Linked DNA regions of Homo sapiens. The protein of the gene in region 1 interacts with the protein of each later gene in a pairwise test. Each region holds a gene or a part of one and is shown in the gene's direction. Other genes may lie near its edges.

Region 1 (3,815 bases):
TTTGTATGGAAAGAGCCTTGACCTCACCATTAAAAGTGAATAGAATGGTGGGAAGGCAGAGTTTTAGATACTTTTTCTTGCTTTGGGGTTGATTCTTGCCCCCAGGTGCTGCCCCTTCTCCCAGAAACCACTGATCCGTTTCCCTCACCTAGTCACCTCCAGACCCCAGAAGCTCTCCCCAACCCAGCCGAGTTCCTCTGCAAACAATTCAAGGGGCTCTGATAGGTCACACAGTGCCACCTTGTGTGCTGGACCATATCTGGAGGGAGAACTGAGTGAGGGGGCACAGGGGATTGTCTCCAGGTGGGGCGAGCAGGGGAAGGAAAATAGTGGCCACTTTTACATTGGTTTGGGTAGTAATTATTGATTCAGGAAGCAAATACAAAATCCTGAATGAAATGACTTGGAAAAAGTAAATAGAATCAAGATCCCAAGAGGAGCTGAAGATAAATAAATGGGAGCAGGATGTGGGGGAATGGTCGGTAAGTGAGAAATGCTAAAATGATAGAATAAAGCTTAAGGATTGTTGGAGGTAGAGCAGGAACTGTGTACTGCATAGTTCCCAAATGCCCTGGTGTTCCAATGGGGGATGGAAACTAAAACACTGGCCAGGTTGGATTTCATACTGTAGTCCTGCCATTTTTCTTCCTAGAGCAGAGATAAAAGTTGGCCCTGGGCGATAGCTCATTCTCTCTGAAAGGCTGCTAGTTAGGCCCAGCCTGTCACCCTGGATCATGAGTGTCGTGTGTATTGGGACTTACAGCAGGGGGCTGAGGCTTGCAGATGGGCAAGTGGTGAGAGGCCCCACTGACCTCAGTCTGTTTCTCACTGGAGCGCAGGTTTGGGAGCAGCAGCAACACCACATCCTTCGGCACGCTCGCGAGTCAGAATGCCCCCACTTTCGGATCACTGTCCCAACAGACTTCTGGTTTTGGGACCCAGAGTAGCGGATTCTCTGGTTTTGGATCAGGCACAGGAGGTAAGCTGCCACAAGTTCTCCCCTCACAAGCAAAATGGGTCCCTCTTGCCTTCTCCCCCAAAGAAATGAGTATGTTTTACCTGACCAGTCTGTTTAGTATTTTAAAAGCTGACTGGGCACGTGGTTCACGCCTGTAATCCCAGCACTTTGGGAGACCAAGGCAGGAGGATCACTTGAGCCCAGGAGTTTGAGACTAGCCTGGGCAACATGGCAAGACTCCATTCTCTACAAAAAATGTTAAAATTCGCCAGACATGGTGGCACACACCTGTGGTCCCAGCTACTCGGGAGGCTGAAGCAGGAGGATCACTTGAGCGCTGCAGTGAGCTGTGATTGCACCACTGCACTCCAGCCTGGGTGACAGAATGAGACCCTGTCTCAAAATAAATAAATATGTAACATACTGAAAGTGGTTGAAACATATATATATATATATATTTTTGAGACGGAGTCTCGCTCTGTTGCCCAGGATGGAGTGCAGTGGCACAATCTCGGCTCACTATAAACTCCGCCTCCCGGGTTCACGCCATTCTCCTGCCTCAGCCTTTGAGTAGCTGGGTCTACAGGCGCCCGCCACCAGGCCCGGCTAATTTTTTGTGTTTTTAGTAGAGATGGGGTTTCACTGTGTTAGCCAGGATGGTCTCCATCTCCTGACCTCATGATCCACCCACCTCGGCCTCCCAGAGTGCTGGGATTACAGCACCTGGCATATATATTTTTTTTTAGGTTTTAGTTAGACTTAGAACACTGTGTCATTTCTTACCAAAGAAATTACTGTCTTGATTTCCTCTCAGGATTTGAGAAGCCCAAAATAATAATGGTCTTACTAGGCCTTGGTTTAAAAAATCTAAGCCAGCAGACTCAAAAAAAAAAAAAAAGGCATAGAAACTTCACAAAACATCTTGCATTTGTTTAACACTCTGCTTCTTCAGATGGCAGAATATGTGTCTTCCATTTTGTTCTTGCAGTAAACTGACAAGGCACAGAATTTAGGTATCATTACAATTGTACCCGTGAAGAAACAGAAACTCCAAGGAACTAAGTGTTAGCAGTTAGCAGTAGAACCAGGCCTAGAATCCAGCCATCTTGCTTCTCTGGCCCCCAAAAAGAAGAGGAAGCAAATGGATGGAAAAACAACAACAGCAAAAAAAAAAAAAAAAAAAAAAGGTTTTCCTAATGAATGGATCTATGTGGTCCAGTACAGCTGAGAGGCCAAGCCAGAGACCCTCTGCCTACAGCTGGGGCCGAGGAGGGAGGAAGAACCCTAAAATACCAAGAAGATAACTCATAAAAAGTAAAGGATTTTTTCTGCCTTCTGGGGGATCTGAGTAGCTCCAGAGGACAAACTCAGAATAAAGGGGCTTCTGTGTGTACCTTTCCTGCCTTCCTGTAGGTGGTGGAGGCACGGAGGGCTTCCCACAAGAAGCACAGAGGAGGGCAGACACTTAGCATGGGGACCACCTTTGTCTTTCGAGTGGATGCGTGCTTTAACTTCACTCTTATTCTGCTTTTCAGGGTTCAGCTTTGGGTCAAATAACTCGTAAGTATCCCCCTTTTTGAGTCTCACCTTAATTAAAAGCATTAAATAAGGTTGGAAGTGTGTGGATCTTGCTGGATTTGTGCATTTTCTTTTCGTTTTTTCCTGTTTTTAGAGTTTGTCCTGGAAGTGTGGGGGTTCAGCAGCAGGGTTTGGGTTTTGTGGACTTGCTCTTCTCTGTAGCAATATGGCAGGAGGTGCCAGGCCTCGCCTTCTTAAGAGGCGTGGTTCAAAGAGAAAAGAGCACGCCTGCCAGTGAGCTGGGCCTGAGGGCAGCGCTGAGGAGATGCTGCTCCTGACTTCCCTGGAGGTTTCTCAGAAGCTGCATGCTAACCCCTGGGCTCTGGGCCATCACCAGGTCTCATGTGTTGATCCACCCTCTGTGCTTCTGTGTAAAATTTCATGGCGTTAAAATTCAGTCTTAGCCAGGTGGGTGGTTCACGCCTATAATCCCAGCACTTTGGGAGGCTGAGGTGGGAGGATTGCTTGAGCCCAGGAGTCAAGACCAGCCTGGGCAACAGAGTGAGACCCCATCTCTACTAAAAATTAAAAAAATTAGCCGTGCATGCTGGCTTATGCCTGTGGTCCCAGCTACTCCAGAAGCTGAGGCGGGAGGATCACTTGAGCCTGGGAGGTTGAGGCTGCAGTGAGCCAAGATGGTACCACTACCGTCTAGCCTGGGTGACAGCCAGACCCTATATCAAAAGAAAAAAATATATATACTGGCCAAGCACGGTGGCTCACACCTGTAATCCCAGCACTTTGGCAGGCCAAGGTGGGCAGATATTTGAGGTCAGGAGTTCGAGACCAGCCTGGCCAACATGGTGAAACCCCATCTCTACTAAAAATATATATATATACATATATAGATAAACACACAAGAATTAGCCAGGCGTGGTGGTGCATGCCTGTAATCCCAGCCACTGAGGCTGAGGCAAAAGAAGCACTTGAGCCCGAGAGACAGAGGTTGCAGTGAGCTGAGATCACGCCACTGCACTCCAGCCTGGGCAATAGAGTGAGACTCTGTATCAAAAAAATAATAATAAAAAATCTGAGTCCTGACCTTTGCACACAGGCAGAGCAGCAGAGCCTGTGACTGCTCTGTGACAGAGCAGCTGACTCCACCACTGTCCTGTGCTTCCTTGCAGGTCTGTCCAGGGTTTTGGTGGCTGGCGAAGCTGAGGGCGTGTCAGCAGGCCTTTCGATCCCTGGGACCAACCGCATCCTCAGCTTCTTCCCCGAGAAATGCTGGAGCAGGCTGTTCAGACCGACGTTGCCATCAAAACACATACACCCAGAA
Region 2 (3,815 bases), on another chromosome or scaffold:
ACCAGGGTGTGGTGGCACATTCCTATAGTCCCAGCTACTCAGGAGGTTGAGATGGGAGGATCACTGGAGCCTAGGAAGTCAAGGCGGCAGTGAGCCACTGCACTCCAGCCTGGGTGACAGGAATGAGACTGTGTCTCAAAAATAAAAAACAAGTTACAGCTTTTGCTTTAGAAAACTTGGAAAGTACAGAAATATATAAATAAAATAAAAATAACCTGATATCACAGAGGTAACTACTACATTTTAGTATATTTCTTTCGAAACATATACACACACAAACATATTTCTTGTTTATGTATACAATTGACCCTTGAACAACATAAAGTTTAGCGGCACTGATCCTCTGTGCAGTCAAAAATCCACGTATAAGCTTTGACTCCCCAAAAGCTTAACTACTAATAACGTACTGTAAGAGAAAAGAAAATGTTAAGAAAATCATAACGGATCAGGCGCGGTGGCTCACGCCTGTAATCTCGGCACTTTGGGAGGCTGAGGCGGGTGGATCACAAGGTCAGGAGTTCGAGACCAACCTGGCCAATGTGGTGAAACCCCATCTCTACTAAAAATACAAAAAAAATTAGCCGGGCTTGGTGGTGCATGCCTGTAATCCCAACTACTGTGGAGGCTGAGGCAGGAGAATTGCCTGAACCCAGGAGGCCGAGGTTGCAGTAAGCCGAGATGATGCCACTGCACTCCAGCCTGGGCAACAGAGCAAGACTTCATCTCAAAAAAAAAAAAAAAAAGAAAAAGAAAATCATAAGGATAAGAAAATATATTGACCATTCACATAGTGGAAGTGGATCATCATAAAAGTCTTCATCCTTATTGTCTTTATGTTGAGTAGCAGAGGGATAGGTGGGTGTGGTCTTGCTGTCTCAGGAGTGGCAGAGGCGGAAGAAAATCCCTGTACAAGTGGCCCCTGTACAAGTGGACCCTGTACAGCTGTGTGTACAGTTGACCTTTGAACAGAACTGCAAGGGTCCACTTGTACAGGGATGTATAAGTTGTTCTATGTGTGTATATATGTATACCTATGTGTCCGGAATTGGTGGGTTCTTGGTCTCACTGACTTCAAGAATGAAGCCACGGACCCTCGCGGTGAGTGTTACAGTTCTTAAAGACATCGTGTCCGGAGTTTGTTCCTTCTGATGTTCAGATGTGTTCGGAGTTTATTCCTTCTGGTGGGGTCCGTGGTCTCGCTGGCTCAGGAGTGAAGCTGTGGACCTTCGCGGTGAGTGTTACGGCTCTTAAGGCGGCCCGTCTGGAGTTGTTTGTTCCTCCCAGTGGGTTCGTGGTCTCGCTGGCTTCAGGAGTGAGGCTGAAGACCTTCGCGGTGAGTGTTACAGCTCATAAAGGCAATGTGGACCCAAAGAGTGAGCAACAGCAAGATTTATTGCAAACAGCAAAAGAACGAAGCTTCCACAGTGTGGAAGAGGAGCTGAGCGGGTTGCCACTGCTGGCTGGGGCAGCCTGCTTTTATTCTCTTATCTGGCCCCACCCACATCGTGCTGATTGGTTCATTTTACAGAGAGCCAAGTGGTCTGTTTTGACAGGGTGCTGATTGGTGCGTTTACAATCCCTGAGCTAGACACAAAGGTTCTCCAAGTCCCCACTAGATTAGCTAGATACAGAGTGTGGACACAAAGGTTCTCCAAGTCCCAACCAGAGTAGCTAGATACAGTGTTGATTGGTGTATTTACAAACCCTGACCTACACACAGGGTGCTGATTGGTGTGTTTACAAACCTTGAGCTAGACACAGAGTGCTGATTGGTGTATTTACAATCCCCTAGCTAGACATAAAGGTTCTCCAAGTCCCCACCAGACTCAGGAGCCCAGCTGGCCTCACCCAGTGGATTCCACACCAGGGCCACAGGTGGAGCTACCCGCCAGTCCCGCGGTGTGTGCCCACACTCCTCAGCCCTTGGGTGGTCGATGGGACTGGGTGCCGGTGGAGCAGGGGGTGGCGCTCCTCGTGGAGGCTCAGGCTGCTCAGGAGCGCACGGAGGTGAGGGGGAGGCTCAGGCATGGCGGGCTGCAGGTCCCGAGCCCTGCCCCGCAGGGAGGCAGCTAAGACCCGGCAAGAAATCCAGCGCAGCGCCGGTGGGCCGGCACTGCTGAGGACCCAGCACACCCTCCGCAGCCGCTGGCCCGGGTGCTAAGCTTCTCATTGCCCGGCAGGGCCAGCCGGCAGCTCTGAGTGTGGGGCCCACCAAGCCCACGCCCACTCGGAACTCCAGCTGGCCAGCAAGGGCCCTGGGTAGCTCTGGTTGCCACTCGCGCCTCTCCCTCCACACCTCCCTGCAAGCTGAGGGAGCCAGCTCAGGCCTTGGCCAGCCCAGAAAGGGGCTCCCACAGTGCAGCGGTGGGCTGAAGGTCTCCTCAAGTGCCACCAAAGTGGGAGCCCAGGTAGAGGAGGTACCCAGAGCGAGTGAGGAATGTGAGGGCTGCCAGCAAGCTGTCACCTCTCACCTATACATATATACGTATACATATATATGATTAGGATCATAATCTAGTTTTTCTTTGTTTTTTGTTTTGTTTTGTTTTTTTGAGACAGAGTTTCGCTCTTTGTTGCCCAGGCTGGAGTGCAGTGGCGCCATCTCAGCTCACTACAGCCTCGGCTGGCCTTCCGGGTTCAAGCGATTCTCCAGTCTCAGTCTCCCGAGTAGCTCGGATTATAGGCATATGCCACCACGCCGAGCTAATTTTGGTATTTTTAGTAGAAACAGGGTTTCGCCGTGTTGGCCCGGCTGGTCTTGAACTTCTGGCCTCAGGTGATCCACCGGCCTTGGTCTCCCAAAGTGCTGGGACTACAGGCGTGAGCCACCGCGCCCGGCTGTAATCCAGTTTTTTTTGTTTTTGCTTTTGTTTTTGTTTTTGTTTTGAGACGGAGTCTCGCTTTGTTGCCCAGGCTGGAGTGCAGTGGCGCAGTCTTGGCTCACTGCAACCTCTGCCTCCCAAGTTCAAGCAATTCTCCTGCCTCAGCCTCCCGAGTAGCTGGGATTACAGGCTCATGCCACCACACCCGGCTAATTTTTTGTATTTTTAGTAGAGAGGGGGTTTCACCATGTTAGCCAGGATGGTCTCAATTTCCTGACCTCGTGATCCATCCGCCTCAGCCTCCCAAAGTGCTGCAACTACAGGCGTGAGCCACCGTGCCCGGCCCTAGTTTTATATTCTAATTTTTGCTTTCAGTTTGTCTCTGGTACTAAAAATATTAGAATGAACACCCTTATACATAGCAACCTTTGTTTACATATATAACTATTTCCCAAGGTTAAATCCTATAAATTGTATTATAAGTCACAGGATATGAATGTTTTTCAGGCTTGTGATGCTTATTAACAATTATCCCTCCCAGAAAACTTGTACCATTTTAATTCCCTTAACGGTAATTTAGGAAATGATACATTTCACCACATTTGGAACAACAGTAAATACCAGCTTTTAAAATTTCTGCCAGTCTGATAAGTAAAGCATTTTATCTCTATTTTAAGTTGCATTTAACTTTATTTCATTTATTTACTATTTGATTTTTTTTGTGTGTGAATTGCCTGTTCATTATCTTTGCCCAAATTCATTTACTTTTCTCATTTATTTGTAAGAGCTATTTGTACATTAGGGCATTAGTTCTTCTCTTGTCATATATGTTAAAATTGCAATTTTCCTAGTGTACCATTTGCCTTGTAATTTTGCTTAGTATAGTTTCTGGCAGAATTTTTAAAATAAAAGTTTGAATATAAATGTAGTCAAATCTTTCTCCTGTGTTTGTTGTTCATTCTACGCCACTTATCTTTAGAAAATCTTCCCCAT

Evidence for each region.
Region 2: the proteins of NUP214 (region 1) and NUP42 interact in a two-hybrid assay, tested with the Homo sapiens proteins (one study listed by BioGRID).

What each region holds. Positions count from the first base shown.
Region 1 is NC_000009.12:131,229,791-131,233,605, forward strand, and holds part of NUP214 (nuclear pore complex protein Nup214), read left to right. Parts: intron 1-839; coding exon 840-979; intron 980-2,493; coding exon 2,494-2,518; intron 2,519-3,663; coding exon 3,664-3,697; 3' UTR 3,698-3,815. UniProt on the Homo sapiens protein: Part of the nuclear pore complex. Has a critical role in nucleocytoplasmic transport.
Region 2 is NC_000007.14:23,191,821-23,195,635, forward strand, and holds part of NUP42 (nucleoporin NUP42), read left to right. Parts: intron 1-3,815.